2 separate regions of the Homo sapiens genome follow, and region 1 is linked to region 2. Evidence: fine-mapped expression QTL. A gene starts in region 2. The other region holds a variant in brackets. All regions are shown on one strand. Distances are between the middles of the regions.

Region 1 (4,372 bases), 720 kb before region 2:
CCAGGGAGAGCTGGAGGGGTCAGGGACATTGAAGGTAGCATCAGAGAGGAACAGGACTACAGGCTATGGACAGTCCTTTCTAAGCTCAAGACTGGGTCTGCTAGGTCTAAGTTGAAGGACGAAGAAGGCTTGGTCTGAGCTGCAGGTCAGGAGTGCCTGGGTCAATCAAGTCAACAAGGAAGAAGGTGAATCTTCATTTGCTCTTTTCTTCCCACTCCAGCCCCAGAATGTTGACAGTCGCTCTCCTAGCCCTTCTCTGTGCCTCAGCCTCTGGCAATGCCAGTAAGTGAGATACCAGGAGCCTGGTATTGGGGACTTGGGAAGGCAGCCTTGGGCACTGCTGTTGGCCAAGGCTTTTGGAGGTTGGCTTGGGGTGGGGAGCTGAGTTGTCGGAGGAACAGGGGTGATGCAGAGAAACTGAACTCCTGGAAGATTTCTCCCTCCAACTCCTGCTTGCCCCTCCAGTTCAGGCCAGGTCTTCCTCCTATAGTGGAGAGTATGGAGGTGGTGGTGGAAAGCGATTCTCTCATTCTGGCAACCAGTTGGACGGCCCCATCACCGCCCTCCGGGTCCGAGTCAACACATACTACATCGTAGGGTAAGATTCTTTGAATTCCTGGCTGGGCGCGGTGGCTCACATCTGTCATTACAATGCTTTGGGAGGCAGAGGCAGATCGCTTGAGGCCAGGAGTTCTAGCTCAGCCTGGGCAAGATGCCAGGGATGCCAGGGATTTAAACCATGCTCCAGGTACCAAGACCCCATCTCTACCGAAGAAAAACAAAAAAATTAGCCAGGCATGGTGGTGAGTACCTGTAGCCTCAACTACTCAGGAGGGAGAGGCGGGAGGATTGCCTGAGCCCAGGATGTTGAGGCTGCAGTGAGCCAAGATCATGCCACTGCACTCCAGCCTGGGTGACAGAGTCTCTTTGTTGGCAAAATGAGTTGAAGTTCCCTGTAGGATCTTCCAGGGTTCACCCAGGCTTCACAGTCTGTAGGACTAGCCAGAGACCTCTCATCCCTATCATCACCTTTCTTTCTCCTTCCTTCCTCCCCTCTTCCTCAGTCTTCAGGTGCGCTATGGCAAGGTGTGGAGCGACTATGTGGGTGGTCGCAACGGAGACCTGGAGGAGATCTTTCTGCACCCTGGGGAATCAGTGATCCAGGTTTCTGGGAAGTACAAGTGGTACCTGAAGAAGCTGGTATTTGTGACAGACAAGGGCCGCTATCTGTCTTTTGGGAAAGACAGTGGCACAAGTTTCAATGCCGTCCCCTTGCACCCCAACACCGTGCTCCGCTTCATCAGTGGCCGGTCTGGTTCTCTCATCGATGCCATTGGCCTGCACTGGGATGTTTACCCCAGTAGCTGCAGCAGATGCTGAGCCTCCTCTCCTTGGCAGGGGCACTGTGATGAGGAGTAAGAACTCCCTTATCACTAACCCCCATCCAAATGGCTCAATAAAAAAAATATGGTTAAGGCTAGTCTGTGTGGGGGCATCTGTGGCTGGGATATCTGCCTCCTGACTTAGCCGGGGACGTGCAAATCTCACTTCTGGCTGGCTTTGGACATCTGTCTGGAAGATGGGAAGATGAGGGAGAGGTATGTAAGAATCCTGGGCTTTGTGCTATAATTTATCAAGAGGAGATGAGATTCTGGCTTGCATCAACGCTCTTCAAGGACAGCTCCTTGGAACATTGATCCAAACTGGAGTCATGGGTCTGAGGGCAAGGCCTAGTTGTGGCTTACACCAAAACCCCAGATGTCCCACTCTCCAGCTCTCCTCACCCCTGGTCCTCCCCTTGAGAAAGTGGTGAACTCACTTGCTGTGTGTGGGTGGCCAGGACCATTAGCCTTTGTTCTTTCCCAGAACCCACCTGACTCCTGAAACTTAGCTGAAGTCTGTGCCCGAGGACCCTGCCCTGTTACCAGGCCCAGTTCCTCCTCACCTCTACCCATGAGCCCCGGTGTCCTGCTAAGCCCTCTCAGATCTGGGATTCCTCCTTCCTCAGGAAGCCACCACCTTCTCAGCAGTGGAAA[C/G]CCTGCCCACACTATGCTCTTAGGCTTTAGCCATCAGAAGGTTACAGTGGACTGCGGGAGGCTGACACTAGGCTGAACTCATTAAGGAATGAATGGGAGGTGAGAAGACACAGGCAGCAAGAATCGAGTGTTTCAAGAAGTTTGGCTGTGGTTTGCCAGAAATAGGCAAGTCAGTTTTCGGGGGTGTAAGGAAAAAGGGTTTTGTGTCTTTTTAAAATCCTAGACAGGAGAGTCACAAGCATGTTCACATGATAAAGAGGAAGAAAGAGAAAGAGGCTGGAGATTCTGAAAAGAGATCACTGGTGAGGTCTCAAAAGAGATAGAAGAGGATGGTTATGTAGTTGGGGAAAGAAATTTTAAGAAGGGAAGAAAATTAAAATGAGTGAAGGTATACGTTAGTTTTGTAAAAGTTATCAATATCTGGCTGGGCACAGTGCTCACACCTGTAATCCCAGCACTTTGGGAGGCCAAGGCAGGCAGATCATTTGAGGTCAGGAGTTGGAGACAAGCCTCCAACATGGTAAAACCCTGTCTCTACTAAAAATACAAAAATTAGCCAGGTGTGGTGGCAGTCACCTGTAATCCCAGCTACTTGGGAGGCTGAGGCATGAGAATCACTTGAATGCTGGAGGCAGAGGTTACAATGAGTTGAGACAGCACAACTGCACCCCAGCCTGGATGACAGAGTGAGACTCCATCTAAAAAAAAAAGGAATGTTATCAGTATCAAAATGGAGTAACATATGTCACATCCTAACAAAATGGAACCAACCTGACACCTAAATTAAGCATTGCACCTGATAACACCATGGAGGACTGGGTGGAGAATCAGCAGACAATGGCAGGGAGAGGCAGTCTGTGGACCAAGTTCAGGTGAAAGGATCACCCATCATGTTGGGCATCAGATCAGGCAGGTTCACACACTACCTGAGGAAGCTGGTCTTTGTGACAGACAAGAGCTGCTCTGCCTCTTGGGAAACACAGGCACCAGTTTTAGTGCCATCTTCTTGCACCCAAATGCTGTCCTTTAACTCATCAGTTACAGTGCTGGATCCCTCATCACTGCCAATACGGGGCTAGCAATATGTCTGCCCCAGTGAATGCAGCCGCCACGGAGCCCCAGCCTCCTCTATGGCAGGGGCCCTGTGGTGGGGAATGAGGACTTCTCTATCATTAACCTCCATGCAGTTGGCTCAAGAAAAGGATATGGTAGTTGGGCAAGGGGGCTCACACCTGTAATCCCAGCACACTTGTAATCCCAGGAGGGTCGCTTGAGCCCAGGAGTTTAAGGCCAGCCCGGGCAACATAGCAACCTGTTTGTAGGCAAAATGAGGAGTTGAAGTTCCCCGTAGGATCTTCTAGGGCTCAACCAGCCTTCATGTGCAGTGGGACTGGCAAGAAATCTGTCATCCCTGTTACCACTTTGAAGGTCTCAGTGTGTATGCAGGTCCTGAAAAGTTCAAGTCCCACCTGAAACGCAACACAGCATCATGCTCTGATTCATCAGTGATTCCCTAATCAATGCCATTGGCTTGCATTGGGACTATCTATCCCAGCCTATCCAGTGACTTCAGCAGCTGCAGAGCCCCAGCCTCTTCTTTGGCAGGGGCACTGTGGTGAGGAGGAAGGATTCCCTTATCACAAATCTCCATCCAATTGGTTCTATAAACAGATATGGTGGCCCAACTGTTGCGGGAAGTCAGGGACCCCGAACGGAGGGACTGGCTGGAGCCACAGCTGAGGAACATAAATTGTGAAGATTTCATGGACATTTACCAGTTCCCAAAATTAATACTTTTATACTTTCTTATGCCTGTCTTTACTGCAATCACTAAACATAAATTGTGAAGATTTCATGAACATTTATCAGTTCCCAAATAATACTCTTATAATTTCTTATGCCTGTCTTTATTTTAATCTCAATCCTGTTATCTTCATAAGCTGAGAATGTACGTCACCTCAGGACCCTGTGATGATTGCATTAACTAACAAATTGATTGTAAAACATGTGTGTTTGAACAATATGAAATCTGATTGTAAATGTGCATTTGAACAATATGAAATCAGTGCACCTTAAAAAAGAACAGAATAACAGTGATTTTAGGGAACAAGTGCAGAGGTTACAATGAGTTGAGATAGTGCGACTGCACTCCAGCCTGGATGACAGAGCGAGATTTCATCTAAAAAAAAAAAAAAAAGAATGTTATCAGTATCAAAATGGAGTCACATATGTCATATCCTAACAAAATGGAACAAAAAGGGAAGATAACCATAAGGTCTGACTGCCTGCGGGGTCGGGCAAAAAGAGCCATATTTTTCTTCTTGCAGAGAGCCTAT
Region 2 (4,393 bases):
ACAGTGGGACACCATCTGTACTTTTTTTTTTTCTTTTGAGAGAGAGTCTTGCACTGTTGCCCAGGCCAGAGTGCAGTGGTGCGATCTTGGCTCACTGTAACCTCCACCTCCTGGGTTCAAGCGATTCTCCTGCATCAGCCTCCCAAGTAGCTGGGATCACAGGCATGCACCACCATGCCCTGCTAATTTTTTTGTATTTTTAGTAGAGACGGGGTTTCGCCATGTTGGCCAGGCTGGTTTTGAACTCCTGACCTCAAGGGATCCGCCCGTCTCGGCCTCCCAAAGTGCTAGGATTACAGAGTGAGCCACCGTGCCCAGCCCTTTTCTTTTTTTTTTTTAATTGGCCAGGTATGGTGGTGCATGACTGTAGGCCCAGCTACTTGGGAGGCTAAGGCAGGAGGATGACTTGAGCCTGGGAGGTCGAGGTTGCAGTGAGCTGTGATCATGCCACTGTACTCCAGCCTGAGCTACAGAGTGAGATCCTACCACAAAAAAATAATAAATAGGCCGGATGCAATGACTCATGCCTGTAATCCAGCACTTTGGGAGGCCGAGGTGGGTGGATCATTTGAGGTCAGGTGGACGTGGTTGTGGGGGCCCCTCTGGAGGAGCAGGGGGCTGTATACATCTTCAATGGGAGGCACGGGGGGCTTAGTCAGGAGTTCAAGACCAGCCTGGCCAACCTGTTGAAACCCCATCTCTACTAAAAATACAAAAATTAGCTGGGCATGGTGGCATGCGCCTGTAATCCCAGCTACTCGGGAGGCTGAGGCAGGAGAATTGCTTGAGCCCAAGAGGAGGATCTCAAAAAAAAAAAAAAAAATAGGAGCCAGGCACTGGGGCTCACTCCCGTAATCCCAGCTACACAGGAGTCTGAGACAAGAGGATCGCTGGAGGCCAGGAGTGTGAGGATGCAGTGAGCTATGACTGCACCACTGCACTCCAGCCTGAGCAACAAAGCGAGGCTCTAACAACAACAAAAGCTGCAACTTTATTATGAAGCATAATAAAATTCATGCAAGCATCACTGAAGGCTTAAACATAAGCATGAAAGTAACTCAGTATGATTTCTCTTCCTAAGAGCTTTCTCTTCTTCATGGAAAATGGGTCAGAGGCTGCTAGAATGAACTGGGAGCCCTAATTAGTTATCACCATTATTGGCCAGGCATGGTGGCTCATGCCTATAATCCCAGCACTTTGGGAGCCCAAGCCGGGAGGATTGCTTGAGCTCAGGAGTTCAAGACCACCCTGGACAACATAGGAAGGTCCCTTCTCTACAAAAATTTATTTAAAGTTAGCCAGGTGTGGTGGCACATGCCTGTGGTCCCAGATCCTTGGGAGGCTGAGGTGGGAGGATTACTAGAGCCTGGGAGGCCGAGGCTGTAGTGAGCTGTTATCATGCCACTGCACTCCAGCCTGGGCAACAGGGTGAGACCCTCTCTCAAAATAAATAAATAAAAAGTATCATTATTATTTTCCTTAAGAGGAGACAGTGACATGTTGAGGTCTGCTTTAGGGAAGGAGAGTTCTCTGGCTTTGCTGGCGGGAGCCCCACATCTGAGGGGGGACGTGCAGTTGGGTTGGAGGGAGAGAGTTGGTTGCCTTCTGCCCTGCAGCTCCCGGCCCGTGGTGGATATGGTCACCCTGATGTCCTTCTCTCCAGCTGAGATCCCAGTGCATGAAGTGGAGTGCTCCTATTCAACCAGTAACAAGATGAAAGAAGGAGTTAATATCACAATCTGTTTCCAGATCAAGTCTCTCATCCCCCAGTTCCAAGGTCAGAGCTCTCCTCCTGCTCCCAGGGCAGCTGCCGCCCCAAATCCAGGCTTATGGCCTGGGATCCCCCACCATTTAACTCTTGCCTTTTCCGCCCTGCCCAGGCCGCCTGGTTGCCAATCTCACTTACACTCTGCAGCTGGATGGCCACCGGACCAGAAGACGGGGGTTGTTCCCAGGAGGGAGACATGAACTCAGAAGGAATATAGCTGTCACCACCAGCATGTCATGCACTGACTTCTCATTTCATTTCCCGGTAAGGGAGCCAGCGCCAATGCTCTGGGATGAGCTACCTGCAGGGGCAGGCTCAGCTCCGTCACTGTCCAGTGGGTGACACGTCACTTCCATCCCTCTGTGCTGTCACTTCCTCTCCTGTGCAATGGTAGTAATAACACCCTTAGCATATTTTCTTCTAGTGTTTTTTTTAAATTATATATATATGTGTATATATATGTATATATATGTGTATATATATATATGTATATATATATATATATATATTTTTTTTTTTTTGACACAGAGTCTCGCTCTGTCACCCAGGCTGTAGTGCAGTGGCACGGTCTCACTTACTACAGCACGATCTCGGCTCATGGCCACCTCCACCTCCTGGGTTCAAGCAATTCTCCTGCCTCAGTCTCCCGAGTACCTGGGATTACAGGCACCTGCCACTATGCCTAGCTAATTTTTGTATTTTTGGGAGAGATAGGGTTTCACCATGTTAGTCAGGCTGGTCTCGAACTCCTGACCTCTGGTGATCTGCCTGCATTGGCCTCCCAAAGTGCTGGGATTACAGGCATGAGCCATCGCTCCTGGCCTATTTTATATTATTTATTTATTTATTTATTTATTTATTTATTTATTTATTTATTTGAGACAGAGTCTCGCTCTATCACCCAGGCTGGAGTGCAGTGGCATGATCTCGGCTCACTACAGCCTCTGCCTCCCGGGTTCAAGCGATTCTCCTGCCTCAGCCTCCCGAGTAGCTGGGATTACAGGTGCATGCCACCATGCCCAACTAATTTTTATATTTTTAGTAGAGTTGGGGTTTCACCATGTTGGCCAGGCTGGTCTCGAACTCCTGACCTCAGGTGATCCTCCTACCTCGGCCTCCCAAAGTGCTGGGATTGCAGGCATGAGCCACTGCCCCCGGCCATATTTTATATTTTTAGAGATGGGGGTCTTACTTTGTTGCCCAGGCTGGACTCTAACTTCTGGCCTCAAGAGGTTCTCTTGCCTCAGCTTCCTGAGTAGCAGGGACTACAAGTGCACACCACTGTGCCTGGCTGCTTCTAGGTTTTTAATTTTTTTAATTTTTTATTAAAAAAATTTTTTTAGAGACAGGGCCTTGCTCTATCGTCCAGGCTGGAGTGGAGTGATGCAATCATGGCTCACTGTAGCCTCCAACTTCTGGGCTCAAATGATCCTCCCACCTCAGCCTCCCGAGTAGCTAGGACTACAGGCATGCACCACCACATCTGGATAATTTTTAAAAATGTTTTTGTAGGCCAAGCGCGGTGGCTCAGCACTTTGGGAGGCCAAGGTGGGTGGATCACCTGAGGTCAGGAGTTCGAGACCAGCCTGGCCAACATGGTGAAACCCCATCTCTACTAAAAATACAAAATTAGCTGCGTGTGTTGGCACATGCCTGTGATCCCAGCTACTTGGGAGGCTGAGGCAGGAGAATTGCTTGAACCCAGGAGGCAGAGGTTGCAGTGAGCCAAGATCGTGCCATTGCACTCCAGCCTGGGCAACAAGAGTGAAACTCCATCTCAAAAAAAAAAAAAATAGTTTTTGTAGAGACAAGGTCTTGCTGTGTTGCCCAGGCTGGTCTAAAACCCTTGGCATCAAGTAATCCTCTTACCTTGGCCTCCAAAAGTGCTGGGATTACGGGCATGAGCCACCGTGCCCAGCAGCTTCTACTTTTTAATATATTTATGGGCATTTTTAACATGATTACAATGGCAATGTAGTTACTATTTTTCCCTACTCTTTTCATACATTATATATTAATGCTGCTACACAGCTTTCATAATTTTTAATTATGAAATATTAAAATGTTTGGCTGGGCACGGTGGTTCATACCTGTAATCCCAGCACTTTGGGATGCCGAGGTGGGCAGATCACCTGAGATTGGCAGTCCAAGACCAGCCTGGCCAACATGGAGAAACCCCATCTCTACTAAAAATGTACAAAATTAGCTGGGCGTGGTGGCCCATGCCTGTAATTCCAGCTACTTGGGAGGCTGCGGCAGGAAAATCACTTGAACCCAGGAGATGGAGGTTGCAGTGAGCCGAGATCGTGCCATTGCACTCCAGCCTGAGCAACAAGAGTGAAACTCCATCTCAAAAAAAAAAAAAAAAATTAAAATATTTAATTTTTACAGAATATTCAATCATCATGGTATGTTGTTATTTGCCAGGTACATATCATGCATCCCAGAAAAACTTAGGGATTTTTTAAAGTTTTTAAATTAAGTCTCATGTATGGTACATGGAAAAAAAAAGTTTTTAAAAAAGTTAAAACAGGCCAGGCACGGTGGCTCATGCCAGCACTTTGAGAGGCTGAAGTAGGTGGATTGCTTGAGCTTAGGAGTTCAACACCAGCCTGGGCAACATAG

The links. PIP is the estimated chance that this variant, and not a neighbour inherited with it, causes the effect. A credible set is the group of variants that fine-mapping cannot tell apart.
Region 1: its variant is the best candidate, but not a certain one, in a credible set for the expression of ITGAL-AS1 in subcutaneous fat (GTEx, PIP 0.62).

What each region holds. Positions count from the first base shown.
Region 1 is chr16:29,779,040-29,783,411 of GRCh38, forward strand. It overlaps ZG16 (zymogen granule protein 16), which reads left to right. Exons shown (of 4, transcript NM_152338.4): 2 at 221-282; 3 at 466-598; 4 at 1,065-3,934. The coding sequence starts at 228. The coding sequence ends at 1,380. It overlaps LOC124903675 (a long non-coding RNA gene), which reads right to left. Exons shown (of 2, transcript XR_007065048.1): 2 at 3,928-4,215. Among named protein-coding and RNA genes, the nearest start is that of ZG16, 3.0 kb to the left of the region's middle. The variant C/G (reference allele first, on the strand shown) is at 2,037.
Region 2 is chr16:30,497,458-30,501,850 of GRCh38, forward strand. It overlaps ITGAL-AS1 (ITGAL antisense RNA 1), which reads right to left and starts at 2,097. Exons shown (of 2, transcript NR_186415.1): 1 at 1,907-2,097; 2 at 973-1,694. It overlaps ITGAL (integrin subunit alpha L), which reads left to right. Exons shown (of 31, transcript NM_002209.3): 16 at 1,617-1,777; 17 at 1,881-2,032.